2 linked regions of the Homo sapiens genome follow. The protein of the gene in region 1 interacts with the protein of each later gene in a biochemical or structural test. Each region holds a gene or a part of one and is shown on either strand. Other genes may lie near its edges.

Evidence for each region.
Region 2: the proteins of NPHS2 (region 1) and FOXC2 form a complex in vitro, tested with the Homo sapiens proteins (one study listed by BioGRID).

What each region holds. Positions count from the first base shown.
Region 1 is NC_000001.11:179,565,397-179,573,808, reverse strand, and holds part of NPHS2 (podocin), read left to right. Parts: intron 1-8,412. UniProt on the Homo sapiens protein: Plays a role in the regulation of glomerular permeability, acting probably as a linker between the plasma membrane and the cytoskeleton.
Region 2 is NC_000016.10:86,562,929-86,569,828, forward strand, and holds FOXC2 (forkhead box protein C2), read left to right. Parts: upstream 1-3,900; 5' UTR 3,901-4,407; coding exon 4,408-5,913; 3' UTR 5,914-6,800; downstream 6,801-6,900. UniProt on the Homo sapiens protein: Transcriptional activator.

The sequences.
Region 1 (8,412 bases):
GATATAAATTAGTTTTCTACGCATATCTCTCGCTACTGTATGAAGGAATTTTTGAGGCCTTTCTTCATTTATAAAATGTAATTTTGTATATGCATTTATTTATTTTTACTTGCCATGGCTACCACTGGTAACTGAAACATATTTATGAACTAATTAAAACTGGCAATGATACTGTTAGTCATTGTCCTTGAAAGAGAATATTATAAAAATTAATATGTTGGTAGAGCAGCATTTCCCAGAGTAGGTTCCATGAGAAATAAGTTCCATAGAATATCAATGAGCGTTCCTTAGAGAAAATATTACCTGGTCAAATGTGTGTAAACAAAGCTAAGAATGCTTTGCGAGATTCTCATAGCTTCAATGTCCTGAAGAGCACTGGGAACTCCAGGAATGGGATGTAGTGCCTAGTATTCTCTAAACTCATTTGCCCAGGAAGTTCTTCTTTGGTGGAGCACTCCGTGGGATTAGTATTTCGTAGGATGGCCTTTAGAAACTGCCATACTATGGTATTCAGTGCTGATTTTGTTTTTGTGCTGGTGCAGCTTGCATCTCTGTCCTCTTCTTCAAGTGATCTGCACATCAATTTGGTGGTGACCTTTCTGGGGCATGAAAATCAAATTTTCAGGCCTACTAATTAGTTATCCCCTTTGTCCCCATCTCTTAAAAATAAGATTTTAGGCCAGGTGCCATAGCTCATACCTATAATCCCAGCACTTAGGGAGGCTGAGGTGAGAGGATCACTTGAGGCTTGGAGTTTGAGACCAGCCTGGGCAAAATAGCGAGACCCCATCTCTGCAAAAAAATAAATTAGCCAGGTAAGGTGGCATGCACCTGTAGTCCCAGCTACTTGAGAGGCTAAGGTGGGGGGACTGCTTGAGCCCAGGAGGCCGAGGATGCAGAAAGCCATGATTGCATCACTGCACTCCAGCCTGGAGAGAGCAAGACCCAGTCTCAAAAGAGAGAAAAAAAGAAGGAAAGATGAAAGAAAAGAAAGAAAGAAAGAAGGGAAGGAGGGAGGGAAGGAGGGAGGAAGGGAAGGAAGGAAGGAAAGAAGGAAGGAAGAAAGGAAGGAAAGTAGACTACCATTTCCTAATTTTTAGTCACCTTCTAGTCCTCTACGATCTTTTTAAACTGGCAAATAATATTGCTTTAGTAAGTTTTCTAGTACCTGGAGGTTAAAATTCTTGAAATTTTCATAACTCTTACATTTAAATCATTTTCATTCCTCCTTTCTTCTCACACTCAACTAATATTTATTGAGCACATGTATGGTGCCAGGCACTATTCTAAGCCCTGGGGGCATACTGTAAATAAGACAAGACCCCAAGAAGCTTGTGTTCTTGAGACTGACTCTCCTTGATATTGTTTCATTTATCACCCAAGCATCTTGGATGTTCTGAACCCCAGTTCCTTATCACTTTTTTATACATATTAGTAGGTGAATATTACCCCATAAAGTTAATTTTCAAAGACTATTGAGATCAACACCTTAATGGAGGTGTTAAAATGATGGAACTTCAGACATTAAGGCTTGTAATGAATGGGGAAGTTATTTCATGGAAGATAAGCCTCTGGACATGTGCTTGGAATCACTTAAAACAAACCGGACAGAAGATGGCCAAATAGGAACAGCTCCGGTCTACAGCGCCCAGCATGATCGACACAGAAGACAGGTGATTTCTGCATTTCCAACTGAGGTAACTGGTTCACCTCACCAGGACTGGTCGGAAAGTGAGTGCAGCCCATGGAGGGTGAGCTGAAGCAGGGCAGGGCGTTGCCTCACCCAGGAAGCACAAGGGGTCGGGGGATTTCCCTTTCCTAGCTAAGGGATGCCATGACAGACTACCTGGAAAAACAGGACACTCACACCCAAATACTGTGCTTTTCCCAAGCTCTTAGCAACCTGCAGACAAGGTGATCCTCTCCCGTGCCTGGCTCGGTGGGTCCCATGCCCAAGGAGCCTTGCTCACTGCTAGCGCAGCAGTCTGAGATTGATCTGCGAGGCCGCAGCCTCGCTGGGGGTGGGGTGTCCACCATTGCTGAGGCTTGAGTAGGTAAACAAAGTAGCCAGGAAGCTTGAACTGGGCGGAGCCCACCATAGCTCAACAAGGCCTACTGCCTCTAGACTCCACCTCTGTGAGCAGGGCATAGGTGAACAAAAGGCAGCAAACAACTTCTGCAGACTTAAACATCCCTGTCTGACAGCTCTGAAGAGAGCAGTGGTTCTCCCAGCACAGCGTTTGAGCTCTGAGAATGGACAGACTGCCCCCTCAAGTGGGTCCCTGACCCCCGTGTAGTGTAACTGGGAGACACCTCCCAGTAGGGGCCAACAGACACCTCATATAGGCGGCTGCCCCCCTGGGATGAAGCTTTCAGAGGAAGCATCAGGCAGCAATATTTGCTGTTCTGCAGCCTCCGCTGGTGATACCCAGGCAAACGGGGTCTGGAGTGGAACTCTAGCAAACTCCAACAGATCTGCGGCTGAGGGACCTGACTGTTAGATGGAAAACTAACAAACAGAAAGGAATAGCATCAACATCAACAAAAAGGTCATCTATGCCAAAACCACATCTGTAGGTCACCAACATTAAAGACCAAAGGTAGATAAAACCACAAAGATGGGGAGAAACCAGAGCAGAAAGCTGAACATTCTAAAAATCAGAGCGCCTCTTCTAAACCAAAAGGTTGCAGCTCCTTGCCAGCAATGAAACAAAGCTGGATGGAGAATGACTTTGAGGACTTGACAGAAGTAGGCTTCAGAAAGTCAGTAATAACAAACTCCTCCAAGCTAAAGGAGGATGTTCGAACCCATCGCAAGGAAGCTTAAAACCTTTAAAAAAGATTAGACGAATGGCTAACTAGAATAAACAGTATAGAGAAGACCTTAAATGACCTGATGGAGCTGAAAACCATGGCACAAGAACTTCATGACGCATGTGCAAGCTTCAATAGCCAATTCAATCAAGTGGAAGAAAGAGTATCAGTGACTGAAGATCAAATTAATGAAATAAAGTGAGAAGACAAGGTTAGAGAAAAAAGAGTAAAAAGAAACGAACAAAGCCTCCAAGAAATATGGGACTATGTGAAAAGACCAAATCTATGTTTGGATTGGTGTTGGGAGCAGGCCCCTCAAAATCTGGCCATAAACTGGCCCCAAAACTGGCCATAAACAAAATCTCTGCAGCACTGTAACATGTTCATAATGGCCCTAACGCCCAAGCTGGAAGGTTGTGTGTCTACGGGAATGAAGGCAAGGAACACCTGGCCTGCCCAGGGAGGAAAACCGCTTAAAGGCATTCTTAAGCCACAAACAATAGCATGAGCGATCTGTGCCTTAAGGACATTCTCCTGCTGCAGTTAACTAGCCCAACCTATTCCTTTCATTCGGCCATCCCTTTGTTTCCCATAAGGGATACTTTTAGTTAATTTAATATCTATAGAAACAATGCTAATGACTGGCTTGCTGTTAATAAAAACATGGGTAAATCTCTGTTCCGGGATCTCAGCTCTGAAAGCTGTGAGACCCCTGATTTCCCACTTCAAACCTCTATATTTCTGTGTGTGTGTCTTTAAATTCCTTTAGCACCACTGGGTAAAGGTCTCCCTGACCGAGCTGGTCTTGGCAGATTTGTGTACCTGAAAGTGATGGGGAGAATGGACCAAGTTGCAAAACACTCTTCAGGATATTATCCAGGAGAACTTCCCCAATCTAGCAAGGCAGGCCAACATTTAAATTCAGGAAATACAGAGAACACCACAAAGATACTCCTTGAGAAAAGCAACCCCAAGACACATAATTGTCAGATTCACCAAGGTTGAAATGAAGGAAAAAGTGTTAAGGGCAGCCAGAGAGAAAGGTCGAGTTACCCACAAAAGGAAGCCCATTAGACTAACAGTGGATCTCTTGGCAGAAATCCTATAAGCTAGAAGAGAGTGGGGGCCTACATTCAACATTCTTAAAGAAAATAATTTTCAACCCAGAATTTCATATCCAGCCAAACTAAGCTTCGTAAGGGAAGGAGAAATAAAATCCTTTACAGACAAGCAAAATGCTGAGAGATTTTATCACCACCAGGCCTGCCTTACAAGGGCTCCTGAAGGAAGCACTAAACATGGAAAGAAACAACCAGTACCAGCCACTGCAAAAACATGCCAAATTGTAAAGACCCTTGATGCTATGAAGAAACTACATCAATTAATGGGCAAAATAACCAGCAAACATCATAATGACAGGATCAAATTCACATATAACAATATTAACCTTAAATGTAAGTGGGCTAAATGCTCCAATTAAAAGACACAGACTGGCAAATTGGATAAAGAGTCAAGACCCATCGGTGTGCTGTATTCAGAGACCCATCTGATGTGCAAAGATTCACATAGGCTCAAAATAAAGGAATGGAGAAAGATCTACCAAGGAAATGGAAAGCGAAAAAAAGCAGGGGTTGCAATCCTAGTCTCTGATAAAACAGACTTTAAGATCAGAAGGGACAAAGAAGGCCATTACATAATGGTAAAGGGATCAATTCAACAAGAAGAGCTAACTATCCTAAATATATATGCACCCAATACAGGAGCACCCAGATTCAGAAAGCAAGTTCTTAGATACCTACAAAGAGACTTAGATTCCCATGCAATAATAATGGGAAAATTTAACACCCTGCTCTCAGCATTAGACAGATCAATGACACAGAAAGTTAACAAGGATATCCAGGACCAGAACTCAGCTCTGCAACAAGCAGACCTAATAGGCATCTACAGAACTCTCCACCCCAAATCAACAGAATATATATTCTTCTCAGCACCACATCATATTTATTCTAAAATTGACCACATAATTGGAAGTAAAGCACTCCTCAGCAAATGTAAAAGAACAGAAATCACAACAAACTGTCTCTCAGACCACAGTGCAATCAAATTAGAACTCAGGATTAAGAAACTCACTCAAAACCACACAACTACATGGAAACTGAACAACTTGCTCCTGAATGACTACTGGGTAAATCACGAAATGAAGGCAGAAATACAGATGTTCTTTGAAACCAATGAGAACAAAGACACAACATACCAGAATCTCTGGGACGCATTTAAAGCAGGATGTAGAGGAAAATTTATAGCACTAAATGCCCACAAGAGAAACCAGGAAAGATCTAAAATTGACACCCTAACATCACAATTAAAAGAACTAGAGAAGCAAGAGCAAACAAATTCAAAAGCTAGCAGAAGACAAGAAATAACTAAGATCAGAGCAGAACTGAAAGAGATAGAGACAGAAAAAAACCCTTTAAAAAATCAATGAATCCAGGAGCTGGTTTTTTGAAAAGATTAACAAAATAGACCGCTAGCAAGACTAATAAAGAAGAAAAGAGAGTAGATTCAAATAGATGCAATAAAAAATGATAAAGAGGATATCACCACCTATCTCACAGAAATACAAACTACCATCAGAGAATACTGTAAGCACCTCTACACAAATAAAGTAGAAAATCTAGAAGAAATGGATAAATTCCTGGACACATACACCCTCCCAAGACTAAACCAGGAAGAAGTCAAATCTCTGAATAGACCAATAACAGGCTCTGAAATTGAGGCAATAAATAATAGCCTACCAACCAAAAAAAGTCCAGGACCAGATGAATTCACAGCCGAATCCTACCAGAGGTACAAAGAGGAGCTGGTACCATTCCTTCTGAAACTCTTCCAATCAATAGAAAAAGAGGGAATCCTCCCTAACTCATTTTATGAGGACAACATAATCCTGATACCAAAGCCTGGCAGAGACACAACAAAAAAAGAGAATTTTAGACCAATATCCCTGATGAACATCGATGCAAAAATCCTCAATAAAATACTGGCAAATGAATCCAGCAGCACATCCACCACGATCAAGTTGGCTTCATCCCTGGGATGCAAGGCTGGTTCAACATATGCAAATCAATAAATGTAACCCATCACATAAACAGAACCAACAACAAAAACCACATGATTATCTCAATAGATGCAGAAAAGGCCTTTGACAAAATTCAACAGCCCTTCATGCTAAAAACTCTCAATGAACTAGGTATTGATGGAACATATCTCAAAATAATAAGAGCTATTTAGGACAAACCCACAGCCAATATCATACTGAATGGGCAAAAACTGGAAGCATTCCCTTTGAAAACCAGCACAAGACAAGGAAGCCCTCTCTCACCACCCTATTCGACATAGTGTTGGAAGTTCTGGCCAGGGCAATCAGGCAACAGAAAGAAATAAAGGGTATTCAGTTAGGAAAAGAGGAAGTCAAATTGTCCCTGTTTGCAGATGACAAGATTGTATATTTAGAAAACCCCATCATCTCAGCCCAAAATCTCCTTAAGCTGATAAGCAACTTCAGCAAAGTCTCAGGATACAAAATTAATGTGCAAAAATCACAAGCATTCCTATACACCATTATCAGAAAAACAGAGAGCCAAATCATGAGTGAACTCCCATTCACAATTGCTACAAAGAGAATAAAATACCTAGGAATCCAACTTACAAGGGACGTGAAGGACCTCCTCAAGGAGAACTGTAAGCCACTGCTCAACTAAATAAAAGAGGATAGAAACAAATGGGAGAACATTCCATGCTCATAGATAGGAAGAATCAATATCATGAAAATGGCCATACTGCCCAAAGTAATTTATAGATTCAATGCCATCCCCATCAAGCTACCAATGACTTTCTTCACAGAACTTGAAAAAACTACTTTAAAGTTCATATGGAACCAAAAAAAGAGCCCACATTGTCAAGACAATCCTAAGCAAAAGGAACAAAGCTGGAGGCATCACACTACCTGACTTCAAACTATACTACAAGGCTACAGTAACCAAAACAGCATGGTATTGCTACCAAAACAGAGGTATAGACCAATGGAACAGAACAGAGGCCTCAGAAATAACACAACACATCTACAACCATCTGATCTTTGACAAACCCAACAAAAACAAGCAATGGGGAAAGGATTCCCTATTTAATAAATCGTGCTGGGAAAACTGGCTACCCAAACATAGAAAGCTGAAACTGGATCCCTTCCTTACACCTTACACAAAAATTGATTCAAGATGGTTTAAAGACATAAATGTTAGACCTAAAACCATAAAAACCCTAGAAGAAAACCTAGGCAATACCGTTCAGAACATAGGCATGGACAAGGACTTCATGACTAAAACACCAAAAGCAATGGCAACAAAAGCCAAAATAGACAAATGGGATCTAATTAAACTAAAGAGCTTCTGCACAGCAAAAGAAACTATCAGCAGAGTGAACAGGCAACCTACAGAATGGGAGAAGATTTTTGCAATCTACCCATCTGACAAAGGGCTAATATCCAGAATCTACAAAGAACTCAAACAAATTTACAAGAAAAAAACAACCCCATCAAAAAGTGGGTGAAGGATATGAACAGACACTTCTCAAAAGAAGACATCTATGCAGCCAACAGACACATGAAAAAATACTCATCATCACTGGTCATCAGAGAAATGCAAATCAAAACCACAATGAGATACCATCTAATGCCAGTTAGAATGGCAATCATTAAAAAGTCAGGAAACAACAGATGCTAGAGAGGATGTGGAGAAATAGGAACGCTTTTACACTGTTGGTGGGAGTGTAAATTAGTTCAACCATTGTGGAAGACAGTGTGGCAATTCCTCAAGGATCTAGAACTAGAATTACCATTTGACCCAGCAATCCCATTACTGGGTATATACCCAAAGGATTATAAATCATGCTACTATAAAGACACATGCACACGTATGTTTATTGAGGCACTATTCAGAAGAGCAAAGACTTGGAACCCAAATGTCCATCAATAATAGACTGGATTAAGAAAATGTAGCACATATACACCATGGAATACTATGCAGCCATAAAAAAGGATGAGTTCATGTCCTTTGTAGGGACATGGATGAAGCCGGAAACCATCATTCTCAGCAAACTATCACAAGGACAGAAAAGCAAACACCACATGTTTTCACTCATAGATGGGAAATGAACAATGAGATCACTTGGACACAGGGCGGTGAACATCACACACTGGGGCCTGTCGGGGGGTGGGGAGCTGGGGGAGGGATAGCATTAGGAGAAATACCTAATATAAATGATGAATTGATGGGTGCAGCAAACCAACATGGCACATGTATACCTATGTAACAAACCTGCACGTTGTGCACATGTACCCTAGAACTTAAAGTATAAAAACAAAAAACAACAACAAAAACAAACAGACACATGTAAAGTAAAGCTCAGTGCTTTTTATGTGTATGTGTTATTTTATCCTTCTGCCAGAGATAGGTGATATAGCTCATGAACTAGTTATTATGGGATAGTCATGAGATGTTAGCATCCTCATAATATAGTGAAGAAACTGAGGCGTGAAAAGGTCAT
Region 2 (6,900 bases), on another chromosome or scaffold:
TGCAGTGAGCGGAGATCGTGCCACTGCACTCCAGCGTGGGCGACAGAGCAAGACTCCGTCTCAACAACAACAGGAAAAAAAGAAAAAAGAAAAAAAAATTTCTTCCGCCTAGGATTGAGGGTTGCGTTTACTTGTTGAGTTTCTTTAATCCTTGTGACCAACAGCAGTTCTCACTACCCACCCGCTTCTGTAGTCCTTTCTGGCCCTGCCCTTTGTCGATGGCGCAGCATGGCTTTCACTCACCGGAAAACTCACACACAGTAAAATGAGCTTGAACTGAGTTTTAGAAAAGACACTTTTTTTGTCCCACAAAAGTTTAGAAGCCGGATTACAATGGATTTTTAGGAGGTGGCGCCGACTTTGTGTAACCCAAGGGCTCCTCGGTTCTCAGGCAGCTTCTGGAAGCCTGGGACTCCTCTGCCACCCGATCCCTTTCCTCAAAACCAAGGCACCTCGTGACCCCAGAAAAGAAATGTTTGAAGGATATTGAAATGAATGAATGGGAAATAGTGAGACAAGAAACAAAACTCCTTTCACTTGTCCCCTCTTTGAGTTCTCTGTTGTACCTCAAAAGTAGAAGTGGCTGCTGCCCAGTTTCAAAGTCTGCCTCTTGTTCAAGCCAACCCTCTAAACACACGACCAGCACAAACAGCTTTCTGATGAATTCCCTGAAGCTCACGCCACACCTCGGGCAGAAAGACAGCTGCAGCGGGAAAACATGGACGAGGCAATTTGTTCAACAACTCCGGGGGAAGAAAATGCAGACTTCTAGCCACCTAAGAGGCATAGATTTTATTTGGGGAAAACCCCAGCAAGTTTCCCTAGAGAAAATTTCTTGCTCCCCGAGCAGTTTCAAAGACATTTTTGTTTCCCAACAGATCATGTTCTTGACACGTTGCGAAGTTACGGGAAATGTTTTTTAATCGACGCGATGCAGTTTATCTCCTTTCTCTGCTTTTACAGATTTCTGAAGGCTCCATTCCAGCCGTGCAATGCCCAGGAGTATCCACAAGGTGTCAGCACCTTCATGATAAGCAGGGCGGGCCGGGCGGTCTTTTTCTTTTTCCTTTTCTCGTAGTAGTTCCCTGGTTGGCCTCAAGATGACGCCAACACCCACGGAGTCCGCCCAGCCGCTCCAGGTGCAGCGGCCACGGGCCGGGAGGAGCGCAGCGCGGTGGGGGCGGAAGGCGAATTAAATACCTTTAGGCTTTATCGCCGCTTATTATTCCAGGAACACGCGAGGCCCTCTGGGACCCGATTCCGCGTTCGGCTCACTGACTTACAAGGTCAAGAAGGGGGAAAATCAGCCAGAAAGTAGCAGCCCCCCATCCGAAATACCCTGGCAGGTTAAAGAAAAGCTGGGAAATACGGTTTTTGCAAAGTCCAGGTGTATGGAAGGCGTTGTTTTAATAACCTGAACAAACATCTTTCCCGGAGTCCCACTGAGCAAACAAGAAACCTAATTCCAGGGGTAAAGGGAAGTGTCTCTCTCACCTTTTCTGTCTTGATGAGACGAATTTCTTTCCCCTCCCCTTTTCCTTTCTTTGGGGCGGGGGAGGGTGGATAATATATTGGGCGACTCGATTTAGGTGTTTGTTTGTTTGTTTGTTTGTTTCCCCAGATGACATTGGTTTAAACCGGGACACCCTTGTGAATACAAACGTAGGCAGCAACTGCCATTTTGGAATTTATTTTTTCATAGTCCTTAGCTATTTTAGGTTTTGCTGTGATAAAGCTGTTTCTCTCTCTCTCTCTCTCTCACACACACACACACACCCCTCGTAAAAGCAGAGTAAATAATATTCCTCCAGGAAGCCTACAGGCTGAGGAGTGTTTCTTGATCAATAGTTTGCATTTCCAGTAAAATCGTGACACGAACTCAGTGTGCCTGTCATGCGCTGCAGGAGAAGGGCACTTTTTGCTAGTCCTTTTTTTTTTTTAAGCTAGATGCGGAAATACTAGCTTATTAAAAATAATAAAGTCATGGTGGGAGTTTAGGGTTGGGGCAGAAAGCTCAAATCATTTGCCTGTGAGCTGAGAACTGGGCAGCTTTATTTTACTTTGTTTCAAAGAAAGAAGAAAAAGGATCAGGTTAGAAAAAGAGCCCAGAATACTCATAAAAACAATGTTTCAGAAGTGGAATATTCAAGGTAAAGGAACCTGATTTGTAGCTTCCCTTTGGCTTTGAATTGATCAGGAGACAAAGATAATGCATCTACATTTTCGTCTTCTGTTCTTTTATTGGAAATAAGTGGCACGCCCCATTGCCTTCTAGTCGCCTCCCCGAAGCGAAGAGGCCGAAGCGAAGAGGCCTGGTGGGTTGTCTCAACATCCTTTTGCTGAGAATCGAATACGCAGCCGATGAACAGCCAGGAAGGGTGCAAGGAAACCTGAAATACAAATGTTCTCCCTGAAGCCCTCTTCCCTGCCCAACCAGACCAGCAACTTCCAAAATTCTGCCCGTGTTTAGCCTTGTTAAAGGGGTGTCTCACTCCTTCAGGGAAAGTGGGAAAAGGGGATCTGATTATTGAGGTGTGGAAGGAATAAATAATCAGTCCACAAATAAACAAACTGTCCGGGATTCCTAGAGGGAAGGAGAAATCCTTGAAGGAGATCCAAGTCGCTCCAGGTCTGCCTGCCGAATAATATCATCCCGAAGGGATCTTGAACCGTTTGCAATCAACCGCTCACCCAGTCTTCCCACGGAGCGCGCTCCCTAACTCACCCTACCCACCCAACAAAACAAAAAAAAGGCTGAAATATAGAAAAGCAACTTGGAGGCTCCCAGGGGGACGTTGCCAGGAGCAGGAGGCAGGGACAGCGCCCTAGGGTCGGTGTTAGCGGCCGGCGCCGGCCTGGGCCACGGGAAACGTCCACGCTTGGTGCCCGCGGTGCGCGGCGCTCATTGCGCGCGCCTTCGAGCCAAGCCCCCGCGGAAAACAGGCTCGGGTTTCTCCTCGCAGGGCCCAGGAACTCGGCTCTGCCTGGCCCGGGTGGGTCGCTGCATTGTCCCGGTCTTCTGGGAGTGCGGGGTCAGCTTGTTAGAGGGAATTTCTACCTGGGAAAAGGGAGACGAGTTTCGAAGCTGAAGTTGGTAGGCTGCGAGTGTCCACGCGGGAGACGAAAGGGGGAAATAGCAGAGTCACTTCACCCTTTTCCCCAAACCCCACAAAACTGCTCGCAGCGACGCGGATGATCTACCGAATTCCCCGCGAATTCGGAGGATTAAGTTGTCAGTCAGCACGTTGCTACCTTCCCCTCTATGCACTCCGCTGCCTGGCTCCTCGGCGGGGAGCGAGGGAAACTCAGTTTGTAGGGTTTACCTCTAAAACCTCGATAGGTTATCCTTGACGACCCCGAGCCTGGAAACTCCCTGTTGATGATTAATTATTTGATTAAATAAGTATAACATCCAGGAGAGGCCCTGCCATTCCAATCCAGCGCGTTTGCTTTGAATCCATTACACCTGGGCCCCCATAATTAGGAAATCTAATTATTCGCTTCATCACTCATTAATAAGAAAAATGTCCCAGGATCATTGCTACTTACAAGGTCTTTGGGAGAGATATTTTACTCTATTAATCCATTCTATTTTATATTTCAAATTGATTTTTTTTAACAGAGGAAAGTGGCTATCTTTTTGTTTTGGGCATGTGGGCCCATTCACCAAAATGTGATCATAAAATAAATTTTAATAAGATATAACTTTTTAAAAAGTTTTCAAGTGAAGACGGAGTCGCCGCGGAGGCCGGGGCGGCGGGGTCTTAGAGCCGACGGATTCCTGCGCTCCTCGCCCCGATTGGCGCCGACTCCTCTCAGCTGCCGGGTGATTGGCTCAAAGTTCCGGGAGGGGGCGTGGCCCGAGGAAAGTAAAAACTCGCTTTCAGCAAGAAGACTTTTGAAACTTTTCCCAATCCCTAAAAGGGACTTGGCCTCTTTTTCTGGGCTCAGCGGGGCAGCCGCTCGGACCCCGGCGCGCTGACCCTCGGGGCTGCCGATTCGCTGGGGGCTTGGAGAGCCTCCTGCGCCCCTCCTCGCGCGGGCCGAGGGTCCACCTGGGTCCCCAGGCCGCGGCGTCTCCGCTGGGTCCGCGGCCGCCCGCCTGCCCGCGCTGCCGCCGCCGGGTCCTGGAGCCAGCGAGGAGCGGGGCCGGCGCTGCGCTTGCCCGGGGCGCGCCCTCCAGGATGCCGATCCGCCCGGTCCGCTGAAAGCGCGCGCCCCTGCTCGGCCCGAGCGCCGCCGCCCGCGCACCCTCGCCCCGGAGGCTGCCAGGAGCCCGGGGCCGCCCCTCCCGCTCCCCTCCTCTCCCCCTCTGGCTCTCTCGCGCTCTCTCGCTCTCAGGGCCCCCCTCGCTCCCCCGGCCGCAGTCCGTGCGCGAGGGCGCCGGCGAGCCGTCTCGGAAGCAGCATGCAGGCGCGCTACTCCGTGTCCGACCCCAACGCCCTGGGAGTGGTGCCCTACCTGAGCGAGCAGAATTACTACCGGGCTGCGGGCAGCTACGGCGGCATGGCCAGCCCCATGGGCGTCTATTCCGGCCACCCGGAGCAGTACAGCGCGGGGATGGGCCGCTCCTACGCGCCCTACCACCACCACCAGCCCGCGGCGCCTAAGGACCTGGTGAAGCCGCCCTACAGCTACATCGCGCTCATCACCATGGCCATCCAGAACGCGCCCGAGAAGAAGATCACCTTGAACGGCATCTACCAGTTCATCATGGACCGCTTCCCCTTCTACCGGGAGAACAAGCAGGGCTGGCAGAACAGCATCCGCCACAACCTCTCGCTCAACGAGTGCTTCGTCAAGGTGCCCCGCGACGACAAGAAGCCCGGCAAGGGCAGTTACTGGACCCTGGACCCGGACTCCTACAACATGTTCGAGAACGGCAGCTTCCTGCGGCGCCGGCGGCGCTTCAAAAAGAAGGACGTGTCCAAGGAGAAGGAGGAGCGGGCCCACCTCAAGGAGCCGCCCCCGGCGGCGTCCAAGGGCGCCCCGGCCACCCCCCACCTAGCGGACGCCCCCAAGGAGGCCGAGAAGAAGGTGGTGATCAAGAGCGAGGCGGCGTCCCCGGCGCTGCCGGTCATCACCAAGGTGGAGACGCTGAGCCCCGAGAGCGCGCTGCAGGGCAGCCCGCGCAGCGCGGCCTCCACGCCCGCCGGCTCCCCCGACGGCTCGCTGCCGGAGCACCACGCCGCGGCGCCCAACGGGCTGCCTGGCTTCAGCGTGGAGAACATCATGACCCTGCGAACGTCGCCGCCGGGCGGAGAGCTGAGCCCGGGGGCCGGACGCGCGGGCCTGGTGGTGCCGCCGCTGGCGCTGCCCTACGCCGCCGCGCCGCCCGCCGCCTACGGCCAGCCGTGCGCTCAGGGCCTGGAGGCCGGGGCCGCCGGGGGCTACCAGTGCAGCATGCGAGCGATGAGCCTGTACACCGGGGCCGAGCGGCCGGCGCACATGTGCGTCCCGCCCGCCCTGGACGAGGCCCTCTCGGACCACCCGAGCGGCCCCACGTCGCCCCTGAGCGCTCTCAACCTCGCCGCCGGCCAGGAGGGCGCGCTCGCCGCCACGGGCCACCACCACCAGCACCACGGCCACCACCACCCGCAGGCGCCGCCGCCCCCGCCGGCTCCCCAGCCCCAGCCGACGCCGCAGCCCGGGGCCGCCGCGGCGCAGGCGGCCTCCTGGTATCTCAACCACAGCGGGGACCTGAACCACCTCCCCGGCCACACGTTCGCGGCCCAGCAGCAAACTTTCCCCAACGTGCGGGAGATGTTCAACTCCCACCGGCTGGGGATTGAGAACTCGACCCTCGGGGAGTCCCAGGTGAGTGGCAATGCCAGCTGCCAGCTGCCCTACAGATCCACGCCGCCTCTCTATCGCCACGCAGCCCCCTACTCCTACGACTGCACGAAATACTGACGTGTCCCGGGACCTCCCCTCCCCGGCCCGCTCCGGCTTCGCTTCCCAGCCCCGACCCAACCAGACAATTAAGGGGCTGCAGAGACGCAAAAAAGAAACAAAACATGTCCACCAACCTTTTCTCAGACCCGGGAGCAGAGAGCGGGCACGCTAGCCCCCAGCCGTCTGTGAAGAGCGCAGGTAACTTTAATTCGCCGCCCCGTTTCTGGGATCCCAGGAAACCCCTCCAAAGGGACGCAGCCCAACAAAATGAGTATTGATCTTAAAATCCCCCTCCCCTACCAGGACGGCTGTGCTGTGCTCGACCTGAGCTTTCAAAAGTTAAGTTATGGACCAAATCCCATAGCGAGCCCCTAGTGACTTTCTGTAGGGGTCCCCATAGGTGTATGGGGGTCTCTATAGATAATATATGTGCTGTGTGTAATTTTAAATTTCTCCAACCGTGCTGTACAAATGTGTGGATTTGTAATCAGGCTATTTTGTTGTTGTTGTTGTTGTTCAGAGCCATTAATATAATATTTAAAGTTGAGTTCACTGGATAAGTTTTTCATCTTGCCCAACCATTTCTAACTGCCAAATTGAATTCAAGAAACCGATGTGGGTTTTGTTTCCTGTACAATTATGAGATATAATTCTTTTTCCCATTGTAGGTCTTTTACAAAACAAGAAAATAATTTATTTTTTTGTTGGTGGATAAAGAAGTCAAGTATCTGATACTTTTTATTTACAAAGTGTGATGGTTTTGTATAGTAGGTTCCACCCTGAGTATTCCTAAAAGAAAAAAAAAAAAAAAGCTTAAAAACTCTAACTTCATCTGTGTTTGTCTTACGTGGTCTTAATCGTTGTACTTACCTTAAAATAAACCCATGTTGTTTTTTCTGCCCAAAGTTTGGACAGTGTGTTTGTGTTGTTGCATTTTTTACAAACGAGGTGTGTTTGCAAACCCACCTGCTTTGATTATTTTTGTTACACAGGTGGGTATATGTG